4 linked regions of the Homo sapiens genome follow. The protein of the gene in region 3 interacts with the protein of the main gene of each other region in a pairwise test. Each region holds a gene or a part of one and is shown on either strand. Other genes may lie near its edges.

Region 1 (7,025 bases), on a different chromosome or scaffold from region 3:
GATAGGCTAACTTTTAAGTATAATAAAGCTGAATGTGAGCTCAGTAGCGAACCTGTAAGCTTGGTATTATCAAGAGGATATTGGCCAAACAGCATACTTGCTGGCCTTTCAGCCACCTAAAATCACATAATAAAAGTTGGCTGAATTCCCAGATGGGTAACTTAAAAAAAAAAAAAGTTTATGAAATAGAACCTAATTCAGGAAAGTAAAATACTTGAAATCTTTAAACTGTGAAACTCACTTTATTTTGACTAGTTATTCTCCATATGAACTTGCTTATTAACTAGAGCCAGTTTCCAAGTGTGGGAGATCTGGGAAGCCGGCTGTGACAGAAAGAGATTGTAGAAGGGCACAGCCCTAGTGATACATGGAGTGTGGGTGGGATCCTGCAGACCAACAGCATTTGCTCTAAGCTACTGGGTGTTCCCAAACCAGCTGGCACAAAGTCATCTTGTGGGTGTGTGGTTTTTGTAATATCCTTTTTTAAGTTACAAAATAAAGAGATGTTTATTGTAAAAAGTCAGAATGAGCATAAAGAAGAAAAAAAAATCACCTGCAACCCCATTGTTAACATTTTGTTCTATGTATACCTCCTTTCCATTTTTTAAGCATATACATATTTTTTGTTGTTATAAAAATGGATGATGGTATTTTGTAACCTGCTTTTATAACCAGATACATTGAGAACATTTTTCTTTTTTTTTTTTTTTTTTTTTTGAGACGGAGTCTCACTCTGTCACCTAGGCTGGAGTGCAGTGGCACGATCTTGGCTCACTGCAACCTCTGCCTCCCAGGTTTAAGCAAGTCTCGTGCCTCAGCCTCCTGAGTAGCTGGGATTACAGGCATGCACCACCATGCCCAGCTAATTTTTGTATTTTTAGTAGAGATGGGGTTGTGCCATGTTGGCCAGGCTTGTCTCAAACTCCTGACCTCAAGTGATCCACCCACCTCAGCCTCCCAAAGTGCTGGGATTACAGACAGGAGCCACCACTCCTGGCCAAGAACATGTTTCCATGCTATACATATTTTACCACATTTCTTCTTTCTCTCTTTCTCTCTCTCTCCCTCTCTTTCCCTTCCCTTTTGTTCGTTCGTTCGTTCGTTCCTTCCTTCCTCCCTCCCTCCCTCCCTCCCTCCCTCTCTCTTCTCTTGTCTTGTCTTGTCTTTTCTTTTCTTATCTTTTCTTTTCTTTTGTTTTCTTTCTTCTGGCTGTGTCACCGAGGCTGGAGTGCAGTGGCATAACCATAGCTTACTGTAACCCCGAATTCCTAGGTTCAAGGGATCCTCCTGCCTTAGCCTTCTGAATACCTGGGAATACAAGCATGCACTACCATGCCTGGCTAATTAAAAAAAATTTTTTTTCTATAGACAGGGTCTCACAATGTTGTTCAGGCTTACATTTCTTATTTCTAATGGTGGTAATGGCTGTATGTATTTCACTACACAATTATACCATTTTTTATTTAATGCAACAGCTATTATTGGGCTTTTAGTGTTCTTTTGTTTTTGTTTTGTTTATATTACAAACAATACTATGGTGAACATCCTTACAGCTAATCTTTGCAACATCTATAACTTTTAGGACAAATTTTTAGAAGTAGGATTTCAGAGTCCAGGAGTTTATGTAGGATGACTGTTATCAAATTGCCCTTCAGAAAGTTGGACTAAGGTCCTTCCAAGTTGTTGGTCTTTTTTTTTTAATAACAGAATTGCTGTAGAAATTTATATAAAAGTTCAAGATGATTATATTTGTGTTCAAGGTGGTATCATTTATTTCTTCTAGGGTCACAAGATGCTGCTCATGATTTGGATACACTGAAAAAGAATAAGGTAAAAAAATGCTTTAAGTCTGGCACCATATACACAGAATATTTTAATTGTTTTATTTAGGAAAAACTGTATTGGTCCATCTTTGGTATATTATGGAGTTTATTTGGTAACATTTTGGCTATCATTTCAATAGAGTTGAAAAATAATTGGCACATAATTCAAATATGTGGATCTGTAATCTGTCTTTCCAGTTTTACATTCTTCTTGATCTCCTTCATGTACCCTCATGAACCTGACCTTGGAGGCATGTCTTTCTTGCCTGTGTTTATGTAGTTCCTCTGTGTGGGATAGACTTTCCCTCATCTCTGCTTGTCCAAGACCTGTCCATACCTTAAGTCCCAACTCACATACCACGTCTTCTGTAATGCCATTTCCAGCCACTCTACTCCATACAACTGATGTGATTTATTACATATTTACTCAAAAGGATTTTTAGCCCTCTACCATTTTTTTGAGTACTGTTTCAGGTCATGGAATTGCTGTAGGTGAAGGAGTGCAAGAGATTCTTGTTCACTTGAAGCGTATGACCTAAGGGGCAGACAGAGAAGAGAGACAAGCAGCTACCGAACAGCGTTTGTGTGCTTTGATGGGGAAGTGCAGGGTGCTGTAGAAGTGCATAGGAGATGATGCTCTTAACCCATGTTTGGTTTGGTTTGTTTTTGGGGGGATAAGTGAGTCAGGGGAGACTTCCTGGAGGAAGTGATATTGAAGTATTTCTCTGAAGAGGCTAGGAAAGGAGTAGACAGCCTGTAATCCCAAGGCTTTGGGAGGCCAAGGCAGGAGGATTGGTTGACCCCAGGAGTTCGAGGTTACAGTGTGCTATGATTTTGCTACTGTACTCCAGACTGGGCGACAAAGCAAGACTCTATCTCAAAAAAAAAAAAGAAAGTAAAGTGTTCATACAGAATAAATGATATGTGTGAAGGCCCAGAAGCAAGAGAAAGGTGGATGCTTTCAGGGACAGAAAAGTTCAGTGACCCTGGAATAGAGAGTGTGAGAAAGAAGGGCACCAAGAGACAAGGCCAGAGAGAGAGGTAAGCATGAGCCAGATCACAAAAGGCCATGTAAGCCAAAGTTAGTTGTGTGGACTTGATCCAAAAGACTATGGAAAGCCACTGAGAAGTTACCCAGAGATGTAACAAGGTCAAATTTGCAGTTCAGAAAGATTTCTCATTAGAAGCAGTGTGGAAAATCGATTGGAGGGTTGCTCAAGTTAGAGATGGGGGAAACTGGTTATAAAGCTATTGCAGTAATCTAAGGAAAAGATGATAATGGCTGAGATTAAGATTTAGTGGAGATAGAATTAGATAGATGTGAGGGGTTTTTTAGAGGGTAGAATTCTTAAAATTTGATTACTTATGAGGCAGGATAGGGAGTGGGGCTAAGGGAGAAGGAGGAGTCAAGGCTGATGTCTAGCTTTCTTTGGTAACTAAGTAAAGTTATCGTTCCATGAGATTGAAAGCAACGTAGAAGGAACAGGCTTTGAAGGAGAAACAGTGTGCTCAGTTCTGAACATGTTAGGTTTTGGGTGATGTGGATCATCTAGGTGGGTGGATATGTAGGGTCTGAAGTTCAGAATAGAGGTGAATATATAGATTTAGGAATCTTCAGCTTTTAAGTAGTTACTGAAACCATTAGAATAGATGAAGCTGCCTGGGGAAAAGTGTAAAGTAAGAGAGAAGAGGGCCTATGACAGAATCTTATCACAGAACTGATAAATTGAGGAATATCACCCTATATGGAATGATCAAACAAAGAAGAGTCCGCAGTGGGAAAGGAGGATCTAAAAGAGGCCCAAAGAAGGTAAAACAAAAAGATGGTGTCATGGAAACTAAAGAGAATAGTGTTTTAAGGAGGAGAGAGTCAGCAATGTCAGATGCTGTAAAAGTTTAAGTACGATTAGGACTAAATTATATCCATGGGACTTGGTGACAGAGAGGTTGTTAGTGCGTTTGGTGGAAACAGTTTCATTTGAATTGGAGGCCAAAGCCATATTGCAAAAGATTGAGAAGTGAGGAAGTGATGGCAAAGGGAAAAAAAAAAAGAGAGAGAGGAGCCATAGGTGAGGAGGGGGAGGGGAGAGCTTTGAGCATGTTTTAAGGCTGATGGTAGAAGAAGGAATTGAAGATACAGAAAAGCAAGAATTATGACTATAGGGAGATGCCAAGAAAGTAGGAAGCACTGTGACTCCAAGCACAGGTTCTGGAATGAGCCTTATCGAAGATGCACGAGCACATCCTTCATTGTAATCAGAAGGCAGAGGGGAAGTACAGATGTGGACAAGGTTGTTAGGTTTTTTTTTTTTTTTTTTTTTTTTTTTTTTTTTTTTGAGGCAGAGTCTCGCTCATTTGCTCAGGCTGGAGTGCAGTGGCATGATCGTGGCTCACTGCAACCTTTACCTCCTGGGTTCAAGTGATTCTCAGCCTTTGGATTATCTTAATGGACTGTCTGCCTGGCTTTCTTCCACATGGTTGGTGGACTCTAGGAAAAGGGGCTCAAATACATAGATGCAAGAGGAGGAGGTTGCTCAAGTGTACCATCTGAAAGAAAATATTTTACAACCACACCTCCCCTTACTTTTCAGCCAGATTGGTTCATCAGAATCTCTGGGTATGAGACCCTGTGTTATTGATAGTTTTTAAGAGTTCATCAGGTGACTCTAATGTGCAGTCATCCTGGAGAACCATTTTATAAAGTAAAGAATATGAAGGAAAATAGGGAAATAATTCTTGAAAGGGAAGTTGTATACCACTGATACACTTCTCCTATTTAAGTTTTTATATGGATATTCACAGATTAATTCAACAAAGATTTTAAGCATTTTCTGCTAAACTCACTGCTCATTCGCTTATAACACTAAGTTAAACATGGTCCCTACCCTCATGGAGTTTCTAGTGCAGTGAAAGAGAAAAACAATCTCTAAATGGCATGAGCTATAATAGGGCAAGTCCAGGGCTATGAAAATATATAGGCCAGGTGTGGTGGCTTATACCTGTAATGCCAGCACTGTGGGAGGCGGAAGTGGGAGCATCACTTGAGGCCAGGAGTTCGAGACCAGCCTGGGCAAAAAAAGTGAGACCCGCCCCCCTCTTCTCTGAAAAAAAAAAAAAAAAAAAAAATTAGCTGGGTGTGGTGGTACACGCCTGTAGTCCCAGCTACTTGGGAGGCTGAGGCAGGAGGATCACCTGAGCCTAGGAGTTCAAGATTGCAGTGGCCTATGATTGCATCATTGCACTCCAGCCTGGGTGACAGAAAGAGACCCTGTCTCTGCATGATGATAATAATAAGTTAAAAGAGAGAGAGAGAGAGAGAAAACATATAGTAGAAGGAGCACTTCTGGTGTGGGATTGAAGCAGTATTATCATTCAAGTGAGTCGCATTTAAATTTTTTACCTTTCTTGTTATAGATATCAACACCCCAGTCTCTTTTTAGGTAACCTAATTCATGGGATTTAAAACAATCATCTTTTTTCTTTCTCTTTAAGGTGACTCATATTCTTAATGTTGCATATGGAGTTGAAAATGCTTTCCTCAGTGACTTTACATATAAGAGCATTTCTATATTGGATCTGCCTGAAACCAACATCCTGTCTTATTTTCCAGAATGTTTTGAATTTATTGAAGAAGCAAAAAGAAAAGTGAGTTTTGTTTTGATCCATAGTTCTGCAGAAGCAGAAATTTGAAAGTGTGGATCCATTACCCAATCTTTATTATTTTTATAATGAATCTCTAAAAAACAATTATGAAATTTCCCTTCTAACAATATTTCATTATTTCCTACAATTATTTGGTTAATTGCTCTTTTTTCAATGAGATGTTTAGTTTCAACATTAATTCAGACTATAAAACAGAGACTGCTCTAGACTTGTTAGTGTATTTATGATGATTAATATGCATTTGATTTTAATGAATGAGATAGTTATTGTGAAACTATGCATTTTTAGCAGTAAAATTTTAAGGCACTCTAAGGACTAAATGTGTATTGCTTTACTTAGATTGTATGAAAATGCTGATCAGAAACTGTCTGTTGGTTTTCTGAAGTTAGAAGACCAATAGCCAATGTCATATAGTACTTCAGGCTTGTTATTGAAGTCAACATTCTGACAGGCAAAGTTTCTAGGTTGGCTGTTATCAACAATTATTCCTTGAAATGTCATCATTTTTAGTCAGCAAATAATTCTTACAGACTTTATGTAAGATACGTAGATGGGAAAGTAGAAGCATTTACAGAGAGAAATAACTCTTCTGGAACACCTAACAATGACAGGATTACAATCAGGTTTAATTGAACTCTGGCCTACCTTCTCTCCCTTTATCTTTTCTCCTTCCCATTTTCTCTTCCTCTCTCCCTTCTTTCCTTTCATTTAGTAATATTTATTGAATGCCTTAGGTGCCCAGCACTGTTCTACGTGCCTTCCTACTAGACTACCCAGAAAATATAAAACTATTCAATTCTACTGTTCATCAACTTTACTTAATAGCAGATACAGTCATGCACTGCATAATGATGTTTGGACTGCATATATGATGGTGGTTCCATAAGATTATAATAATGTATTTTTACCATACCTTTTCTATGTTTATGTATGTTTAGATACACAAATACATACCATTGTGTTACTGTTGCCTACAAGTCAGTACAGTAACATCTGAACAGGTTTGTAGTCTTGGAGCAATAGGCCATACCATTCTAGGTTTGTGTGAGTGCACTCTGTGATGTTTACACCACGAAGAAACTGCCTAACAACACATTTCTCAGAATGCATCACCATTGTTAAATGATGCACGACTGTATTTGGATGGAAGCAAAGGAAGAGGTTTTTTTTGTTTTTTGTTTTTTGTGTTTTTTTTTTTTGTTTTTTTTTTTTTTGAGATGCAGTCTCACTCTGTCGCCAGGCTGGAGTGCAGTAGTGTGATCTCGGTGCACTGTAACCTCCGGCTCACTGCAACCTCCGCCTCTCGGGTTCAAGTGATTCTCCTGCCTCAGCCTCCCAGGTAGTTGGGACTATAGGAGCACACTGCCACACCCGGGTAATTTTTTGTATTTTAGTAGAGACAGGGTTTCACCGTGTTGCCCAGGCTGGTCTTGAACTCCTGAGCTCAGGCAGACCACCTGCCTCAGCCTCCCAAAGTGCTAGGATTACAGGCATGAGCCACTGCACCTGGCCAAGGGAGAGGTTTTTTAATTCAAAGCC
Region 2 (7,025 bases), on a different chromosome or scaffold from region 3:
TTTGCTTATTTTTGCGTTGTTTAATTTTCTAGAACAAACACAAATTTGAAAAAATTACTAATTGCATAAGCCACAATATGTTACATGAAAAAAGAAAACATGCTTTTGCAAAATATGTTCTCTGTATGTATAATGCAAAACTAAATCTCAAAAAAGTAGAAACATTTAATGCATATGACATGGTTGAAAATCCTAATTGTGTACAATTTTTTGCTGTGGAAAATTGTTAGTTTTTATATTTATTAAACAAACAATCCAGCAAGACTTGACTGCAGGCGATCACTAGGCTTCCACACTTAAAATGGACATATATTACCTAGAAAGCATAACAGGTAAACATTTATAATAAAAGAAATGTGTATGAAACATTCACCCTGAAAACACAACAAACAAACTTGTGTAGCTAAAGGGCTCACTGACTATATAGAGTTTTTCTTACATGGTTTTCCTACAGTGGTTTGTTAGGTAAAAATAACAGACTTTAAACACAACAGAACTTTACTTTTTTAACAGAAGATTTTTAAAGTGTCCTGTGGCAGAGTATCATGCTCTCCAAATTCTTGGACTGTCCCGATAATCTTGTATTACCTATTATCCTGGACTTGCCTCTCTTGACCATATCCTTCTACAATTTACTCAAGCAGTCATTACCTCTTTATCTAAAAGATGACTAAGGGAGACTCCTGCCTGAGAGGTAGATGAGACAGTCTTACTGTTATAACTGTCTAGGATTTAAAAAATATATATATACTTACTGATCCTTTTTGCTTATATAGGATGGCAGAAAAAAGATTATAGGAAAGTCTTAGGGTAGAGAGGGATTTGTTAAACAAGACACACACAGAAAGCATAAAACATTGAGCAATTTGACATGAAAATTCAAAACATCTATATATAGCATACCATAAATAAAGTGGAAAAGACAATAGGCTGGACAAAACCATTTGTAATATATATAACTAACAAAGAATTAGTGCCTGGCATATAAACAACTCTTACAAATCACTAAGAAAAAGGCAAATATGCCAACAGAAAAATGAGCAAAGGTTTGAACAGTCCATTCACAGAAAAGGAAAACCAAATGGCCAACAAATATGGAAAGTCATTTAACTTCATTTGTAATCATGGAAATCCAAAACTGAAAACAATTTAAATATTCATCCATAGCTGAATGGATAGACTGTGATATATTCATATAATATAAAGTTATATAGTAGTTACTAATAAAAAGATGAATAAAAGCTACATGTATCAACATGGATAAATGTCAAAACACTGTTGAGCAAAATGAAGCACATAAACAGTATGGTAACTTTTATATAGTTTTAAAACATCAGTTTCTTAAGCAGAGTGAAGGGTATATTGGCCTATACATTGTCTGTTTCCCTTTACAACTCATACAAACATTATAGATAGTCTTTGGTATTTTTTCAATACACAGTAAAAATATTTTAAGTCAAGAAAAACAGTATTATAAATTGTGATACATGGGTGAAGACTGGGTAAGAGTATAGAGGGTCTTCAAATAGATCTATGTTTTATTTCTTTTTTTTTTGTTTGTTTTTGTTTTGAGATGGAGTCTTGCTCTGTCACCCAGGCTGGAGTGCAGAGGCATGATCTTGGCTCACTGCAACCTCCGCCTCCCAGGTTCAAGCAATTCTCCTGCTTCAGCCTCCCAAGTAGCTGGGATTACAGGCATGCGCCACCATGCCCGGCTACTTTTTTGTTATTTTTTTAGTAGAGATGGGGTTTCACTGTGCTGACCAGGCTGGTCTCAAACTCTCCTGACCTGGTGATCCACCCGCCTCGGCCTCCCAAAGTGCTGGGATTACAGGCGTGAGCCACTGCGCCCGGCCTATGTTTTATTTCTTAAAACAAGAACAAGAAAGATCTGAGGCATATATAGTAAATGTTAAAATCCCACAAAAGCTAGCTGGTGGGTACACAGATAGTTATTATGTTTATCTATACGTTATGCTATATACTTCCGGTATTTTAATGTATTTTAAAATACAAAGAAAGTGATTCGAACTAACGTATTCAATCAAAGTAGGGATGACCTGATTTTGAAGAAACTGCTTACTTCAGAAGTTTATGTGCTGATTTACACCAACAATACAAATATTAGTCTAATCGTAAACTAATTTCACATTCCAAATATATTAGATACTTCAGAATACTTACAGATTCTAGGTCTTTAATATCTTTCTCTAATTGTTTATTTTGCTCATTCATATTCATAATTATATTAAATACAGACTGCCTAGGATGCAGTGTTCGATCAAATTGATGGTACATGTTCCTCCAAAACCTTTATGACAAAAAAAAGTTTCAATAAATTGTGTTTGAGAAAATTCAAGTATAAATACTCCAATGATGTCAACTTACTTAAAATTGAAAGATACTGTATTTGGCTCCAAAACTGTAAATCTGTGAGATTCGGAACTGTAGAGAGGATTTAAGTACTTCTTTTGGTCTTCCAAAAGAAATGGCCACAGGGAATAAGTCTTCTCCTTCAACCTTAATATAATGAGAAAAACACAGAGATCTTTCCTATAGATGCAAAGTAGTAATGGTAATATTCATTTTTATAAATCAGGCGATGGCTTCCGAAGCAGATTTAAATTTTAGTTTTTTCTTGTATTCACAGTCTAACCTTGTCTCAGAATTCTGTATTATCTCTATTCTCCTTTTTCATTCATAATTAGGTAATAAAGTCATGTTTCTTGAACACAACACAGGTATAACATTTTCTCTCACAACCATATATTTTAAGGGATTCCTCTCAACTCACACAATTTCAAAAACTTGGTCTCTGTTCCACCTACTTCAAATCACCACAAACATACACATAGAACAAGACACTAATGCATCTTTCTGTCTGGCCTTCTCTTAACCCCACGTCTGGGCCGTAGTGGCGAGTATCATAGGGCAGGAGCACACGTAAGTGTGAGTGGGTACAAAAAGGGAACAGGCAAAATCAGGATGTTATGCAAGAATTTTAAAAGCCAATTATTTTGCAAATCTAAGAGTAGCTGGGCAAAGGTAAGAATGGTTTTAGACTGGACATTTACCAAGTAAACATAATGTAGGTATCCAGGGGGAAAGTGGAAAATCTCCTGATTTTTCCATAACTCCTAAGATGACCCATAGGTGTGTCTTGGAGAAAAACTACTAGGAAATATCTACTTTTACTTCCATCTTTCCATTTTTGAGAATGTTTGGCACTAATTAAGAATAGTTTTTCCTAAAATAGCTCTGTACTCCAGGAAAAGAGTTACCTCTGTGCTCCAAATTATAATAAACTATTTTGAATCACTGTAACATAGAGCTAAAGCCTCAATGTTCTTTGATTGTTCATCTCCACCATTCTCTATTCACTTTTTATTCCCTTTACGCATTTTTAGAATTTTCCACATGCTCTCAGTTCTGCTGTTTACTCTGTTGGGAGTGTGAGCATGTGGCTATCTTCAAATACTACCAGATTTAGCTTCCTTAATATGTCCCTTGGATGTTCAAAAGTCTGTTAAGTGCTCTTTATTGCCTACTGTAAGAGGCAATAAAGAAATCCAAACTCAGAAGCCCAACCTAAAACAATATACATAGGACCTCTAAGACCTACTCCAGAGATCTTCCTTACAGCAAAATTTAGGCAAAAACCCCTATCCCCGAAGACTGGTCAGGAAATAACATGAACTAGGGTCAAGTAGTGTCTCAGGGCTTTTCTGAGACCCTACTCAAGGACGGACACGCTGCAGCCAACATAGCTAGATTTATTTTCCCCAAAGAACTGTCTGTTTAGAAATGTGGGGAGAGCTATAAGGCTCCATCCTATCTTAAAACAAACCAACAGTTTAAAATATTTTACACTTTAAAACTAGCGACTGATACATTCTGGGAAATTAAACAGCATAAGGATTTCTCTGTTCTAAAATATATAAATGCAGACCGAAAAGAAGCATGAGGAGACTTTCCAGGGTGTTGACAACATTTCATATTCTGGGTGCTGGTTACATAGGTGTGTGAGTTTGGTAAGATTTACTGAGCTTCACACTTAACGCTCTATGTACTTTTCTGTATGTATGCTACACTTCAAAACACATTTTATAATGTGCTTTTACTATTAGCTGAAAGGTGGGGGAATATTAGAAGGGTACTCAGCTTTAGAAATACAAAAAATAAAATCTTTACAATAAACTTTCAAATTGTCAAGATATTTTATTAAGTTTCAAACATGATTTTTGTTAGACCTCGGCTAAGTAGGGGGAAAAGGAGACTCTTTTAATTGAATCATCTTACTTGAGCTCTTCTCTTTCCTTCTGACAATTTCCAAGGAAGTTTCCAAACTGGCATGAATGAATATGCTCATGGATCTGAAGAAGAAATGCTTCACTGAATTCAAAGGCTTGTGGAAACTGTTCGGTCAAATGCCACACACATTCCAAGAACTGAGTAAACACTGGTGAGACTTCCTTTGGGTCACCATCCAACTGGCCACACCTAACCCCACAGAAAGTATAAGCTTTTAAAAACACCTCTGAAAGGTCCATTGTTCAGGTATTGTTAATCTTAAACATACAAAAATATTCCTAAAGCACTGTTACATTAGCATGCAAAACTAGAATTTTTATTGAAACCATTTATGAGTTTTTAAACCACAGCTTTAAAGGATCTGTTACCATCTCTAAATAAAATGCAGCCCAAAAGGAAGGTAATAAATAGTCATGAAAATTAACAAGCGTACTAGAATTGAAAGAAATTACAGAAAAAAATTAAATGTCTTTACGTAAAATACAGTAAAAACCATGACACTCTTACCTCCCATCACGCATGTGAGTTCATAAGGAACAGAAACATTTTGGCATTCTAAACTTGGTTTACTAATTTTATAAAATATATGACTGTGTAACTGTGACTCACCTCTCTGAAAATTTATGTCCAAAAGAGATCCAATCCTTTTCTATTAAAACCTTAATGAGAAAAAGTAAAATTCACTTTCTGACTACTTTCAATTATTTTGTTTAGGCTGGATTAAATCTTATTAGTTTAAAAACAGTATTTACTGTACACTTTTAACTTATAAACAAAACAGCACAAAAAACCACAGGCAAAAGAATGCCAAAACCTTGATTCGAGGTGGGGTTAAAGAAGAATAAAAATGCATAAAAAGAAATAGAGTAGTTTCGTGACTTAAATTATTTCCGTTGAATTTATTACATTTTAAGTGAAAAGTACATGTTATAAAGCAGTATTACATTTAAGTTTTTGTATGTATGAAGATGATATATCATAGGAAAAAGGCTAGAAAAATGTAAACCAAAACTGCTAACAAAGGATAACTCTAGGTGGTAGACTGAGGTGGATATTTTAAAACTTTTGGCTTACTTGTACATTTTTTATATTATTTATATACTACTTTTTTTAAGAAAAAAAAACTAATGATAAAAAGACCAATTATTTTAATCAAATCATCTTACTTGAGTTCATGTTCAGATCCAAGTGTTAACATCTATCCTCTTGAATGGACTGACTTTATGTTTTCCTTGCCACAGCTTCTCTACTTACCCACTCCACTGTAAAAACAGATTTCTAACTTTTTCAGTCTAATCTAAACACATATTTGTAGTATTTAGTACACTTTATCACTTAACTATACAGTCACCAAGCACATTATTTTCATAGTGTCAAAACTGCTGGTTTTAGCTTCTCTGATTTTGTCTCAAGCCTCTGCTTTCCGCAGAAGGCTATACACTGATGTGGCTGAGGATGTAGTCGCTGGAGCTCAGGCACAGGCTCCAATCCCAGCTTCACCACTTTGTGTGACCTTGTGGCTGGAGCCACAGATTTTATTCTGGTCTCTCTGCCATTCTTCTACAAAACCATGTTTAAAGCATAACTCAATATCTTTCTCACTAAATGTATTCTTTGGCTTATCTCAGTGAAGAGCCAGAGAGCAGCACCATCCATCCTGGCACCTAATTCAGAAACTTGGAAATCATCCCAGAGGAAGACTCCTCTCTTCTATCCCACATCCAATCCATGATCAATTCTTCCTGACTCTACTTTCTTTTTTTTTTGAGACAGGGTCTCACTCTGTTGCCCAGGCTGGAGTGCAGTGGCGCAATCTTGGCTCACTGCAACCTCCGCCTCCTGGGTTCAAGTAATTCTTCTGCCTCAGCCTCCTGAGTAGCTGGGATTATAGGTACACATCACCATGCCCGGCTAATTTTTGTATTTTTAGCAGAGACAGGGTTTCACCATATTGGCCAGGCTGGTCTCGAATTCCTGACCTCATGATCCACCCGCCTTGGCCTCCCAAAGTGCTGGGATTACAGGCGTGAGCCACTGCGCCCAGCCACTGACTCTACTCTCTAAACATCCCTGGAACCCATCACCTCCCCCTTCACTTGTGTGTTACTATTTTAGTTTGGTAAAATTAAAAACTTTTGTCTCATAAGTTATCATAATAGTGTCTACACTCGCCTCCTAGCCTCCATTCCCACTCCCTTTGGCCTTCAAGATACCAAGCCACCTTTTTAAAAAGCACATCTAATCAAGTTACTGTTTGCTTGTTTAAAACTCTTTAATAGCTCCCATTATCCAAAGAGGGGAAAGCCCCATTCCAGCCTTCTCTTTCTCAGGCCCTGACCCCACTCTATTCCTCTGCCTCCAAGCCCCCTATTCTAATACTCACTCTGAACTCCATCCATCACACATTACCTGCAGTCACCCAAAGAGGTTATGCTTTGATTTACACTGTTCCTATTGCCTGGGAAGCTCTCACATCATCCCCATTTATTACATGATTTCATTTGGATGTCTAACAAATAATTAAAGCCAAACATGGCAAAGAAAATATTCCTTATCGTACACTCTCAAGGTAAGCTGAGCATTATTTTCTTATTAGCAGCACTCCCGCTTGGCCTGTCCCAGAGTCGGTATGTTAGCAGCAAAAAATAGCGGTGCTGAAAAGGGACTGGTGATTTTAAATCTTCCTTTGCTTTAAGATGGCACTGTATTTAATA
Region 3 (7,025 bases):
AACAACCACAAATAAGAAATAACAGTATAACAACAACAACAACAACAACAAAATAAATAATACAGTATAACAACTATTTTCATAGCATTTACAGTGTATGAGGCATTATAAGTAATCTAGAGATGACTGAAAGTCTGCAGGAGGATGTGTGTAGGTTATATGCAAATATGATGCCATTTCATATAAAGCACTTGGGCAGCCTCTAATTATGGTATCCAAATTATGGAACCACCACTTCTTGGAAACCAAGGGACAACTCCAGAAACGATCTGAACAGAGATCAGTGACAAGACCACCCGTGCATAACCACACCTGTGCATACTAAGTCCTGTGGTTAGCCTTGCGGAACCCACATATACAAAAAGTCAGCCCTCCGTATCTATACACAGGTTCTACATCCCGAGAATACTGTGCTTTCGATCTGTTTTGGGTTGAAAAGAAGCCATGTTATAAGTACACTCACACAGTTCAAACCCATGTTGCTCCAGGGCCAACTGTATAATACTATTCATTTCCTCTTGAGTTTCTTAGAATGTGTTTGATGACAGAAAGTCAAATGTGTTGCACTGTCTGAGGAGTTATCAGTGTACATGTATGCAACATAGAAGAGCATGTCAAGAAGGGGACGGAGGGCAAAAGGCCTAAGTGACAGTAGGGTTTCCACATTCCATCTGAAATATGCAAATACAGATTCTAAGTAGATTGTGAGAAGTTTAATACATACATTGTAACCCCCAGAACAACCACTACAAAAACTACGCAAAGAGAACAGTGTAAAAAAAAAGAAAAAGAAAAATGTAATACTAAAAATGTTCAATTTATTAAAAAGAGGAAGAATAGAAATAAAAATAGAACAAATAAAATGGTATACGTAAATCCAAAATATCAATAATTTTATTAAAGGTAAATGATCTAAACATACCATTAAAAGGCAGATTTTTCAGAACAGAGTTTTAAAAACCCCATCTAACTATAAGATCTGCAAGAAACTCATGTCAAATATAATGATACAGGTAGATTAAAAGTAAAAGGATGCAAAAGATACACCACGCAAACATTAACCAAAACAACGTGGCCAGGAGCGGTGGCTCACGCCTGTAATCCCAACACTTTCGAAGACCGAGGCGGGCGGATTGCTTGAGCTCAGGAGTTCGAGACCAGCCTGGCCAACATGGTGAAACCCCATCTCTACAAAAAATACAAAAATTAGCTGTGTGTGGTGGTGTGCACCCGTAGTCCCAGTTACTTGTGGGGCTGAGGCAGGAGGACTGCTTGAGCCCAGGAGCTCAAGGCTGCAGTGAGCCAAAATCATACCACTGCACTCCAGCCTGGGTGACAAAGTGAGACTGTCTCCGAAAAAAGAAAGAAAGCTGGAGCAGCTCTATGAATATAAGGCAAAGGAATACAGAAGGACATTACGAAAGGATAAAAAGGTCAATTCAGCAAGAAGACATCATCATCCTCAATGTATATGCATCAACAGAGCTGCAAAATACAGGAAGCGAAAATAAACAGAAATGAAAAGAGAAATAGACAAATCTAAAAATCACAGCTGGAGACTTCAACAACCTCTCTCTGAGTAATAGAACAAGTATGCAGAAAAATCGGCAATGACAGAGAAGAACTAATACCATCAACAAATTAAATCTGACATTTATAGAACGATCCACCCACCAAAACCAAAATACACACTCTTTCAGGTATACATGGAATAATTCACCAAGAAAGACCATATCCTGGCTCTAAGATAAACCTTAACAAATTTAAAAGCATTGAAACCATATTAAATATGTTCTCTGCCCATAATGGAATTAGACTAAAATTTAATAACAAAAAGATACAATAAAATCTCCAACTCTTGGAAATTAAACAATATACTTATTAAACTATATTAACCAATTATTAGTAATTATTAATTATAACTAATATATTAAACTATACTTGTTAATCTATGCTCCCAAGAGGAAGTCTTACAAAAAACTTTTTGATCTGAATGAAAACGAAAACTCACACATTAAAATTTGCTGGGTGCAGCTAAAGTAGTACATAAAGGGAAATTTATAGCATTAAATTATTAGAAAAGAAGAGGCCAGGTGCAGTGGCTCACGTCTATAATCCCAGCACTTCGGGAAGCCAAGGCAGGCAGATTCACCTGAGCTCAGGAATTCGAGACCAGCCTGGGCAACATGACGAAACAAAAAATACAAAAATTAGCCAGGCACGGTGGTGGGCGCCTGTGGTCCCAGCTACTTCAGGAGGCTGAGGCAGGAGAATCCCTTGAGCCTGGGAGGTGGAGGCTGCAGTGAGCAGAGATCGCACTACTGCACTACTACAGCCTGGGCGACAGAGCGAGACCCAGTCTCAAAAAAAGAGAAAAGAGGCCAGGCGCGGTAGCTCAGGCCTGTAATCCCAGCACTCTGGGAGGCCGAGGTGGGCAGATCATGAGGTCAAGAGATTGAGACCATCCTGGCCAACATGGTGAAACCTCGTCTCTACTAAAAATACAAAAATTAGCCAAGCGCGGTGGCACACGCCTGTAATCCCAGCTATTGAGGAGGTGGAGGCAGGAGAATTGCTTGAACGCGGGAGGCGGAGGTTGCAGTGAGCCGATATCACGCCACTGCCCTCCAACCTGGCGACAGAGTGAGACGTCTCAAAAAAAAAAAAAAAGGAGAAAAGAAGTAAGGTCTCGAATTCTAAGCTTTTCTAGAAAAAGCAAAATAAATTCAAAGCAAGGAGAAGGAAGGAAATAATAAAGACAAAGCAGAAATCAACGAAAGAGAAAAGAAAAAAAAATCCATGAAAACAAAAGCAATTTTTTGGAAAGATCAACAAATCTACATAATCTCTTCCAAACACTATCAGAGAAGGAAATACTTCCCAACTCATTTTATGAGACCAGCATTAATTACTCTGATAACAAAACCAAAGACAGTGCCAGCAAACAAACAAAACCCAAACCAACCAAAAAAACCTAGGTGGAGCCCTGAATGTTTATTCCTCAAAGCTGGAGAGCAGGAGCCTCTCAGACAGGGTCTCACTCTGCCATCCCGGCTGCAGTGCAGTGACACAATCATAGCTCACTGCACTCTCAAACTCCTGGGTTTAAGCGATCCTCCTGCCTCAGCCTCCTGAGCAGGTGAGACTATAGGTGCGGGCCACCACAACTGGCCAATTTTTTAAAAATCGGTTCTTATTATGCTGCCTAGACCAGTCTCACCTCCTGGCCTTAAGCGATCCTCCTGCCTCAGCTTTCCAAAATGTTAGGATTATGGGAATGAGCTACTGTGCCCAGCCTTCAGTGCTTGTTTACAGTATGACGGATCAGGCTGGAGGGAACCCTGTCGCACTAATTGCAAGTAAGCATCATTACCCGCTACTTTTGTCTCAAGAACACTGTGCACTGAGGAAGGACATCGCAAGTGCTAAAAGTCGAATGCGATGCCAGGCTGCAGATTGTAAAGGTGCATGCAAGAGGTGGCAGGGCTCAGTGGTGAAAAGTTCTGTGCTCGGTCCAGGAGACTTGGGTCAAGCCCTAGCACTGCTACTCACTGGGGCCAGACCCTGTGCAAAGTTTACCTACTCTGAGCCTCAGGGTCCTCTCCATGAAGATGGTGACAACCACCCCCACATGGGGAAGCAAAACAAGACTCAATGTATAATAAAGGTGCTGGCACCCACAGACTGTTCACCAGCCTTTACTACTTTACACGGTAAGTGCTGGTTAAGTATTTGCTGAACTGACAAATAGTAATATAACCAAGAAACAATTGCTGCCCAATCCCATGAACACTCAGTTAAAAGTTTGGAGCCAAGATACTTCAACTGCTTAAAAACTACACAACTTCAAAACCAGCTCATTAAAAAAGAAAGCAGGAGTGGGAGGAAACCCTCAGTCCTCGGCCTGAACGCTTGGTGGCTGTCGCTTCAAGGCATGCTGCATGAGACGCATAAGCAAACGAATTTCAGATCATCAGAAAGATCTTCCTCATTTTCTTCTGGCCCTGACCCACCTTCCGACTTTCTCCTTGACACTAACTTCCTTGTCAAAGCCTCGCGTCCATTAAGCATGTCTGGTATTTGATCTCTGTACCTTCCATCCCATAACTAGAGTGCCCTTGTCACAGATCTTCATCTTTTGCAATTCTGTCTTCTAAAGTCAGAAAAACATAACATCCTCCACAAAGACTTGTGCAAGGGGCCCATACTCTGCGGCCCCAGGGAGTTTTCTCCACAGGCTGCTTCCACTGGGACTGCGTCCCTCTCACTACTCCAGCTACCCCCAGGCTTTCAGGAAGTGGGGACAGCGTGCTCCCTAGCTCCTAACCGCACTGCTCACCGAGCACAGTTGACAGTTCCGTCCCACCTATACATTACCCCATCCATGGAGAAATGCAGCGATAATCCAAGTTCACAGAGACGGTGGAGAAAGGGCTATGTGGATGCATTGAAAACAAAACACAAACCCGAGGGGCCAGGTGATCCCTTCTCCCTTCCACTCTTACTAGAAAACGGCAGCGTGTTTTCTCAGGCTCCCTGAGCTCAGAGGCTCCTGAGTTCGAGATCTGCCTAGGAACCACCTGGGGAATGAAAAGAGAAAGACGGCCTCCTGGCCCCTCGCAGAATCAGGTTCAAGAGGTCAGGCTGAGCTCAGGAGGCTGCTTTTTTTTTTTTTTTTCTGAGACAGGTCTCACTCTGTCACCCAGGCTGGAGTGCAGTGGTGCAATCTTGGCTCACTGCAACCTCTGCCTCCCAGGTTCAAGCAATTCTCATGCCTCAGCCTCCCAAGTAGCTGGGCCTGCAGTCTTGCCTACCGTGACTGGCTAATTTTTATATTTTTAGTAGAGATGGGGTTTCGCCATGTTGCCCAGGCTGGTCTTGAATTCCCGACGTCAGGTGATCCGCCCACCTTGGCCTCCCAAAGTGCTGGGATTACAGGCATAAGCCACCGCGCCTGGCCTTACTTTTCATTTTTTAAACATCCACTTCCCCGCCATATATGCTATAGCTCAAATGCGGGTGATTTAACGATTTTTAAAGAAACATCATAAAAACCAAAGTGAACAGAACACAGAGGAACAAGGCATAAAGTGACGTTCAACAGACGCAGCTCCTGGGGGAGGAGGTGGAACAGTGCTTGGACCCGCCATAGCCACGGACCCATGAGGGATGGTGCCACGCAGGGGCTGAGACCAAGGTCTGGGTTCCCAGAATGGAGCAAAAGGGAGGGCAAGCAATGTGAAGGAGACGGCGAGGACTCCTGCGCCTTCTAGAAGGTGAGGGGACCCCATTTTCATGTCCCACCACTGAGCTCTCCCAACAATCCAGCTGATGCAAGCAGCAAATTCAAGGGCTACAAAGACTAGTATGAAAAGAACTTTTTTTTTTTTTTTAAAGCATGCTTGAATTATCCGCTGTTACATTTTTAAAGGAGCCTAAATCCATGCCCACTCAGCAGTGCACACTAAGCTGCCTGCTCCAAAGCAGGGAAAGAGGACAGGTCAGGGGACAGAGCAGAAGGACCACAGACGCTCCTGCTGTGTGTCACACCCTCCAGACACCCACCGCAGGGCTTCTGGTTGGCCCCTCTCCTGAGCTGTCTCCAGGGCTGCACGCCAGCCATGGTTCCAGGCTTGTACCCAAGTGGTGGGTCCTACTGCCAATTGTCAGGCTCTAAAAATTGGAGGCCAAGCGCAGTGGCTCATGCCTGTAATCCCAAAACTTTGAGAGGCTGAGGTGGGAGGATGGCTTGAGCCCAGGAGTTTGAGAGCAGCCTAGGCAACATAGCAAGACCGTGTGTCTACAAAAATTAAAAACAAAACAAAACAAAAAAAACACCAAAACCTTAGCCAGCCATGGTGGCATGAACCTGTGGGCCCAGCTATTATGGAAGGTGGGAGGATCACTTGAGCCCAGGAGTTCAAGGCTGCAGTGAGCTGCAACTGTACCACTGCATTCCAGCCTGGGCCACAGAGCAAGGCTGTCTCAAAAGAAAAATAAAAAAGTAAAACAGTAAAAATTTGGTGTGTAAAGGGTGACTAATTCAGGAAGACTCCATTAGAAGACCCAGGAAGAGCATTCGGGTCTCTTTCTCTTAATTTAATACGAACTCCCTGAGCAAATGACATTTCTGCATATTCTTAGAACTCTAACCAACCCCAAATTACTTTTTGTGAGTAATCACAATCTGCTGCCTCAAAATGGCAACTAGAAAACAGACCACACTCAATTTCCTAGCACATTTTGGAATCCTTATATGGATGTGTATAGAAAATGATTTAGAGGGAACAGATACCTGGTCAAACAGGTAGACTGTGACATCATCGAAAAACGTGACTGCCTTCTTTTCCTTCTTCCAGTCCTCGGGCAGTGGGTCGGGGGCATTGGCCGCTGTGGGCTTCAACAGACTCCGCAGGTGCCTTCCGTCCTCGTTGCTGAGGATGATGGGCACGGGGTGCTCGGTCTCGTCCTCCGACTCGGAGCTGAGGCTATGCAGGTTGAAGGCCCGCAGGTCCTCGTCCGAGTCGTCGCTGTTTTCGTCCTCCTCGTCTGCATCCATCCCGTCCTCTGAGAGGTCGAGCATCCCTGACACCCCGAGTTTCCCCAGGTACTTCCCTTCGATGTCCGGCTCCTTCAACTTCGGGCCCTCGGAGTGGCTGGACAGGGACTTGTCCAGCGCAGAATTGGTGTAGGCAAGGAGTTCGTTCGTGTTGGTCCCCGTGGAAGCGAGGGTGCAGGGGCGATCGTCCTGTGTCTCGAAGTCATCGCCGCTGCTAAGTTCTGCATTCAGCACACTCCAGGGACTGCTGGCCTCGTCTTCCGTGGGATGCACCTGCTGGGGAACACCAGTCTGTGCTGGCTCCGGCGTGGCTCTTAATTCCAGGTCACTGGAGTTGTGCAAAGCAGACAGACAACTTTCATCTGGCTGGCTCTTTCTGGCTTCCAGGCAGCTATCCTGGGCAGCAGGACTTTGCTCGGGGAGGACTGGCTCGGGTAGGGGCTGCTCCTGTACCAACACCAAGGCG
Region 4 (7,762 bases), on a different chromosome or scaffold from region 3:
GGCCTGCTTCTCCTTCTGGCTGAAGTCTACTAGCCATGTCTCTGGAGCTTGAGGCGGGGACAACAGCCCACTTCTCTGAGTGATCCCCCTACTTTGCAAGGTGAGCAGGAATGATAGCTTCTGGTCTTCTTGGCTTGCCTAAGTGTGGAATCTTTGACCTACAGATGAGGTGGAGCAGGGGCACTTGGGAGAAGCCAGCCAGGGTGAGGAGGAAATCCATATGGGAGAGCAGCCCAGCAGTGGCGAAGCCTGAGCCAGATAACACCTGTGTGGGAGAGTGACCTGGCCCAGGTTATTAGAACATTCCCAGGCATCAGAGCTTGGGTCAGGTTGGGAGGGCTCCATGTGGCAGGGTGACCCTACATGGAATATTGGAACATAGGCAGGATGAGGAGAGCATCTACCCAGGTGGGTGGCAGCAGCAGCTTGGCATAGGTGTTAAAGCCCAGATGGGATGAGAGAGGCATCCACATGGAGGAGGGAGCAGAGGTAGTGATGGGAGACTGGTTACATGTAGGGGGCTTGGTCAATTAGGTAAATATATTAAAGATTACTGTGCCCAGGCTTCTCACAGAGTTATAATTATAGGTACAGTTGTGGAAAGGGTGGAAATTAGAGGAACTCTGTGGTGTTGGCTTGGAATTGGTAGCATCAGGGTAAACTCTTGGTTTTCCATATGTATATATGCCTACATATGGGAATAAATATAGATGTAAAGTGTGATAATGTATGTGCCTGTGCATAATATCCATATTCTTTAGCACTGTCCACTGAGAGGGCCTGGCAGCAGTAACACTCTAATGGCAATGAGCATACCTAACACACAGACATTGGTTTCTAGATACCGTTCTTTACTAATAAATGCAAGGGCTTCCGAGTCTAATCATGAGGAAACTGCATGCCCAAATTGAGAGAGATTGCTACAAAATAACTGGCCTATACTCTTCAAAAGTGTCAAGGTCATCAAAGTCAAGGAAAGACTGAGGAACTTGTTCAAGTGTGAAATAGGTGAAAGAAACAGGACAACTAAATACAACATGTCGTTTTACTGTAAGGAACATTTTTGGAGTAATCAGTGAAGCTTGAATGAGGTCTGAGGAATAGAGGGCAAGTAGTAATATCTCAACCATAATTTCCTGATTTGGGGTAATTTTCAAGAATATCTTTGTGGGAAATATACACTAAATTATTTGGCGTAATGGGGCAGCATTTCTGCAAGTTACTCTAAAAAATTCAAGGGAAAATATTCTTTTTTTCTTTTTCTTTTTCTTTTTTTTTTTTTTTGAGACAGTCCCGCTCTGTCACCCAGACTAGAGTGCAGTGGTGCAATCTCAGCTCACTGCAACCTCTGCCTTCCAGGTGCAAGCAATTCTCCTGCCTCAGCCTTCCAAGTAGCTGGTACTACAGGCATGCGCCACTACACCCAGCCCATTTTTGTATTTTTAGTAGAGACTGGGTTTCACCATGTTGGCCAGGTGGGTTTCTAACTACTGACCTCAGGTGATCTGCCCTCCTCAGCCTCCCAAAGTGCTGGGATTACAGGCATGAGCCACCATGCCCAGCCAAGGAAAAATATTATTTGTAACTTTTGTAACTTTTCTGTAAGTTTGACATTGATTCAAAGTAAAAATATAAAATATTCTCAAAAATATATGGGCCAGGCATGGTGGCAGGCACCTGTCATATTGGCTACCAGAGAGGCTGAGGCAGGAAGATTGTTTGAGCCTAGGAATTCAAGGCTGCAGTGAGCTATGATCACGTCACTGCTCTCTAGCCTGTGTGACAGAGCAAGGTGCTGTCTTTAAAAAAAAATTAAAAATTAAAACTAAAGTGTTCGATTGTGTTGCATGCTGCTGCACAGTCAAATAGAAACTCTAAAAAGTCCACCTCAAAACAGATCATCGGAGGCCTTAGCAAGAGTGGTTTGATTTGAGAGTGGAGGCAGAGGCCAGAGCTGAGTAGGCTAAGGATGAGACCTGTGACACGTGGAGATGGCAGGTGTAGTCACCTTGGTTTGGAGGTTTAGCTATGAAGGGGAGAGAAGAAGGGCCCTCAGAAGAAGGGAAATTATAGTGAAAGATCTGGAAACAATTACATATACCTAGGAATGTTTGAAAAACAGAAATAGGGAAAGTCTTGGAAAAGTTCTGTCTTCGGATATTTGAAAATCTTTCAAGACAAAGAGAAGCTTTATTCTTTATTTTCAGTGGGAAGAACCAGAACCGATGTTTATAGAATGGATTTTAACTCAACACTAGAGAACATTTGAAGCCCAGCGTGTTGGCAGGCATCTGTAGTCCCAGCTACTCAAGAGGCTGAGGCAGGAGGAGCCCTCGAGCCCAAAAATTTGAGTGCAGCCTAAGCAACAAAGTGAGATTCCCATCTCTAAAGAAGGAAGGAAAGAAAACATTTGAGCTGTCTAACAGTGGAATAGTCAGTTCCCTTGTGAAAAGTGAGCCTCTTGTCACAAAAAGTAGAGAACACGAGGCTGGAAATTCAGCTGTACAGCAAATTCCTGGAAGTAACTCCTCCGTGGACTTAAGAATGCGGATAGGTGGGCCTCCCACGCCCACCAGGCACCCACTGCATTCTCAGCCTATTGTTCTATGACTTTAGGAAGCAATGATCCCTTTCTGAAATCTTGAGTATAGAAGGAAATTACTAGTTCTTGGTGTTCTAGATCTCACTTTTCAGTGTTTTACCTGCCCACTTATAGAAATTAAGGAAGAAAAGACTCAGTACTCACTGGTACATTTTAGTGGGTTTCTTTGTTGTGTTTATTGTAACTGATTTCATATTTGTCATGATCAGTATCTCATTTTGTTCCTTAAATATTATTCTAAATTTGGTTCTCGTGTCCAGAGGTGGGTACATTTCTTTTCATCTGCCTCATCAATGCAAGGTATATTCACAGCACCTCATTGTTGGGAACACTGAGCAAGCATGCAGAAAGGGCTGCTTTCACCTTGCAGAATCCTGTTTGCGTTAGGCTTGACTTCCTTAGACATTGACACAGGGTCACTGACTGTACGGTAACTGGGGTAAGCTCAGTCATTTTGTGTTTATTTGAGGTCAACCCAGGGCTCAAGATTTCACCACAGAGATTATTCTTGAGGTGATCTATAAACCATCCCTTCCTTAGCTTGGTCCAAATAAGTCCTACCCCTACCCCTTATCTAATGAAATTAGTTGTCATTTTTAGTGTAGTTGAAAGCAGTTACTTTTGACTTTTCTCTGTAGATGTCCTCAGATGCTGGTTCTCCAGGCCATGGACTTGTTTCTGCAGAGCTCACCACTCTTGTTTCTCAAGAGCTAAGTTAACATTCTGGAGTGCCACATACTCAGAAGCACAGACTTGCCCAGAAATCTTCTTAGACTCCCTCTTACACAGATAGCAAATACACAGCTCCTTAGTTTGAGCATTTAGGGCCTCCTGCCAGTAAGTTCATGTTCTTGTCATGCAGACCTCTGTGCAACTGCTGTTTCTGTGTTGCCCTTAGGGTCCTGAGGGCCTTGCCTAGAATAATCCTCATATAATTCCTCCGACAGGAAAGCTGTGCTTTCTTCCATGGCTGCATTCTAAATAACAAAGGCATGATACTATACATAGAGTAGGAATTTGGACACCAAATCGGGATTCTGTGTCCCTGTCTTATTCGACAAAAGTGCACATTACTGGGGAGATGGGGGCGGCATTTTAAAAGGAGCTTGGTATAGCATTAGTAATCGTTAAAAAAAAAAAAATAGAAAATAGCCTTATCTGTAGCAGTACAGTAGTTTGTTTCTGTGCACACACATCTGAAATACCACTTGTGCAGAGAGCTAGCGAGCAAGCGAGGGCGCAGCCTGACATTAACAAGGGAGGAGGCGGACAATGAGTACATTAGTGGTTGTTGCACTTTCTGTTTTCTTTATATCCTTTATCTTCAAGTTGCAACCTCCCCCTCATCTAGTTCCTTTAAAAATGTGATATTTAGTGATCTTTCTTTGTATGCCTCTGCCAAGACATTATTGAAGCTTCTTTTTTCCCTCACTGCAACAAAAGGCAGAGAATGGTGTTTTGAGTTTTTGAGAGGCATGGCTACTATAACTGTCCAACAGAGGCATAACTAAGAATTGGGTTTTTATATTCTGAAAATGAACACATGAAGTTAAATGTCTTCTGATAATATATCACCTCTAAAAATGTCTTTATTTGTTCTATCCAAGTATTTCTTTAATAGTTTTACCAAGAAAAAATAGAAGTGGTTTTGGTTATGAAAAATTGGATGATATTTTAATAATCTTGTAAGGTGTCCAGCATATCCCACTTTATTACAATTAACTTTTTTCTGCACTATTCAAACGAGGAGTAGAAAGGTAATTTTTTTCAAAATATCCAGAGACAGGTTGTGAACAGAATAACAGAATTTAAGCCTTTTAACATGTATGTAAAAGGCAGTTTTTGCATCAGGAAGACAGTTTTCTAAATTCACTACAGTATTTTGGGGAGTAATTCTTTGGTTAGATATTTTAAGTGCATTTGAGAAACAAAATTTAGTAATCAATATATTTAAAATTTATATTATTCTTCCCTATATTTGAACAATTTGTCCAAAATGCAATCTGTTCATATTGGATTTTGCCTGTTCAGATCTAAGTGGGAATCAGTAGTTTCTTTGTTTGTCGCCATGGAAACCAGTCAGCCAATCTGAATGGCTCTTAGATCATACAGAACGATGCAATGCTCCCTGCTCTCAGTGAAAGTTCCTCACTGAGTGAGTGGGGCTGACTCTTCCTGCCTCCGGCTCTTGCCTCCCAGTGCCATGCAGGTGCAGGATGCAACCAGGCGGCCCTCAGCCGTGCGCTTCCTCAGCTCCTTTCTCCAGGGCCGCCGGCACTCCACCTCAGACCCAGTACTGCGGCTGCAGCAGGCCCGGCGGGGCTCTGGCTTGGGCTCCGGCTCTGCCACGAAGCTGCTGTCCTCGTCCTCTCTCCAGGTGATGGTGGCTGTTTCCTCAGTCAGCCATGCAGAGGGAAACCCAACTTTCCCCGAAAGAAAAAGTAAAGGTCTCTTTCTTCTTATAGATTGCCATACCTATGTATATAAGTTTGAGGAATGGGAATCAGCTGTGTTGTGTTTATACCTTTTTAAATATTGGCAGTTTATTCTATATTATACTTTTTGCTGTCTGTTATGCTATTTTAGTGAATATATAAGAGGATATAAAATGATCAAATGTTTTGTGTTTTTTTATTAAAAATATAGGTTTGAACAAAACTCATTCTCTTGTAAAACATCTGCTTCTACAGTTTCTTCCTCCTAATTGCCAGTATGTGTGGAGATTATTATATGTGAAAGCTTTTTTACATTAAGAGATATATGTCACTTTGACAGGGAAACAGTTTTGTTTTCTTGACAAGATGAAGGTGATTTTGCACTGGCTTGTCATCTACCATCCTGAGATAAAATGGAAGCTATTTCCCATGTTACAATTTCATTTGGAGAGTGGAATTTTGAATTTTCCTTTCCTTATATGTTCTAGGAAATTTAGAACGTCCAACACCAAAGTACACAAAAGTAGGGGAGCGTTTACGGCATGTCATTCCTGGACACATGGCATGTTCCATGGCGTGTGGCGGTAGAGCTTGCAAGTATGAGAACCCAGCCCGCTGGAGTGAGCAGGAGCAAGCCATTAAGGGGGTTTACTCATCCTGGTGAGTGATCCTGTTGGTCTTTCATAGCTCTGTTGGATACAGGAAGGACACTCTGTGTGAGCCAGGAGCCCTGAAGTGTGGGAGGAGCAGTGTGGGACTTTGAAGTCAGGACCTCACTTTGCCAGTCAGTTCTGGCTTTGCCTTAGCTGTGTGATCTTGGCCTATTGACCCTCAGTTTCTTTATCTGTAAGGTGGAAATAATAAAACCAAAACCATAGGGTTTTTTAATTAAGTGAAATGATATATATAAAGTGTATTGAAGAAATGGATAATTAGATAGCTCTTAAATTTCAGAAATGTTTAGAAATAATAAAACTTCAGCTATAAATTTGAGAAAATTATGATGTACATGTGTAATTTTTCAGTTTCATGTAGGTAAGCTTTAGCTTTTATGTTATTCCTATATTCTATATGAAAGGTCACATTTTCATACAAATACCCTTCAGTCTACCCTAATAAAAGTGGTACAAGTTGTCAGCTCAGTAGAAAACATAAGATATTTGCTTTTTTTATGGTGTATAAGTGAAATTAATATTGTTCTTTAATCATACTGCTTTTTATTAAACAGTAAACTAGTCAAATACACCTTTTTGATGTAGTAACATCTGAAAAATTCTGATAAATCACATTTGAAGCATACTTAGAGGAATTCACTGTTTAATTCTAGTAGTGAATTATTTTATACATCAAGAACCCATTTTTCAATTAGATATTTGTCAACTGGCTTATCCAGCTTACAACCTGTACTTTTTCATATTGGATTTGCTCAGTACATCTGTAGTGATATAGTCTGGGGTCCACTGTCATTATTGTTCACCACAGGTCATATTCTGGTCCATCACTATCATACTAATAGTATGAAGAAGGAAACATTCATAGTCAGACAAGAAAATTTCTAATAATGTAGCTTAGGTCATTTGCATATTTTTGCTTTATTGCTGACTAAATCATGTGAGTCTTTTTCACCTCTGCTGCTTTCACGTTACATCCCCCTTCATCTTACACTAATTATCACTGGGGGTCCAAACTTTTGGGTCCCATGTTAAACCATATGCCTTCTTTCAGAGGGAAAGGTGTCATTTTGGATCCTGCCCTGACAGTCTCTGTTATTCCCCTGAGATTCATGTGACCCACGACTTCCAACAGACTTACCTTATATATCTCATCAGGCCACTGATGAGAAATTTGAACAGAACAGAGTGAAGCCAGAGCCCAGAGGCCTGACAAGAGTAATAGTCATTTATTGGGCGTCTGCCCACTCATTCATTCAGTAAATATCCATTTGGCTGTAGGCCAGTCAGTGTGCTAGATGCTTTCATACTATTATCTTTTATCTTCATAAAACTCTTGTGAGCTGTTAATGCCATTTTATCAATGAAAGAATTGAGTTCCAGAGAGACCAAGTAATTTGCTACCAAGCTAGAAAGTAGAAGAGCCAGCATTTGAAACCAAGCCCAACTGACTCTGGAGCCCATATTTGTCACCAAATTACAGTAACTCAGTATTTATTCATAACTGCATGTCAGGATTTGTGCCAAAGACTTTACATCCACATCATATTGAATTCTCACACCAACCCTGTGAGACAGGCATTATTATCCCCATTTAACACCTTGTAACTAAGATTCAGATAGTTGAATAACAAAATATCTCCCAGTTGGCCCTCCTCATGTAAGTCACTACCCATTGAGTAACAATCCAGACTGTTACCTTCACCACCAGCTGAGTTTTCTCCATCATGTCCACTAAAATCTCTTGAGAGTTCTTGAAAATACTTTGCTGGAATCCACAAATAATTTATGTCTTGGAATTTTTTCCAGGGATTTAAGAAGCTAGAGTTTCTTAGAGCTCTAATCATCCAAAATTGAAGCCAGATTTGTATAAGAATATTCTTACACGGGTGCACCAAAATCTCAAAATTCACCACTAAATAACTCATCTATGTAACCTGAAATAATCTGTACCCCAAAAACTATTGAAATTTTAAAAATTAACCTAAAGAGAAAAAAAGCAAAGTATCTAACAGTGCCTTTACTAGACTACCTTTTGTACAAGAAAAAGCAGA

The links.
Region 1: the proteins of LMTK2 (region 3) and DUSP19 interact in a two-hybrid assay, tested with the Homo sapiens proteins (one study listed by BioGRID and IntAct).
Region 2: the proteins of LMTK2 (region 3) and MTMR6 interact in a two-hybrid assay, tested with the Homo sapiens proteins (one study listed by BioGRID and IntAct).
Region 4: the proteins of LMTK2 (region 3) and PTPDC1 interact in a two-hybrid assay, tested with the Homo sapiens proteins (one study listed by BioGRID and IntAct).

Annotation. Positions count from the first base shown.
Region 1 is NC_000002.12:183,081,725-183,088,749, forward strand, and holds part of DUSP19 (dual specificity protein phosphatase 19), read left to right. Parts: intron 1-1,783; coding exon 1,784-1,830; intron 1,831-5,315; coding exon 5,316-5,468; intron 5,469-7,025.
Region 2 is NC_000013.11:25,249,465-25,256,489, forward strand, and holds part of MTMR6 (phosphatidylinositol-3,5-bisphosphate 3-phosphatase MTMR6), read right to left. Parts: intron 5,609-7,025; coding exon of another isoform or gene 5,558-5,608; exon of another isoform or gene 4,985-5,557; intron 4,971-4,984; coding exon 4,921-4,970; intron 4,501-4,920; coding exon 4,300-4,500; intron 2,521-4,299; coding exon 2,389-2,520; intron 2,312-2,388; coding exon 2,185-2,311; intron 29-2,184; coding exon 1-28. UniProt on the Homo sapiens protein: Lipid phosphatase that specifically dephosphorylates the D-3 position of phosphatidylinositol 3-phosphate and phosphatidylinositol 3,5-bisphosphate, generating phosphatidylinositol and phosphatidylinositol 5-phosphate.
Region 3 is NC_000007.14:98,193,843-98,200,867, reverse strand, and holds part of LMTK2 (serine/threonine-protein kinase LMTK2 precursor), read right to left. Parts: coding exon 6,296-7,025; intron 1-6,295. UniProt on the Homo sapiens protein: Phosphorylates PPP1C, phosphorylase b and CFTR.
Region 4 is NC_000009.12:94,079,726-94,087,487, forward strand, and holds the start of PTPDC1 (protein tyrosine phosphatase domain-containing protein 1), read left to right. Parts: upstream 1-4,738; 5' UTR 4,739-4,805; coding exon 4,806-5,049; intron 5,050-5,525; coding exon 5,526-5,697; intron 5,698-7,762. UniProt on the Homo sapiens protein: May play roles in cilia formation and/or maintenance.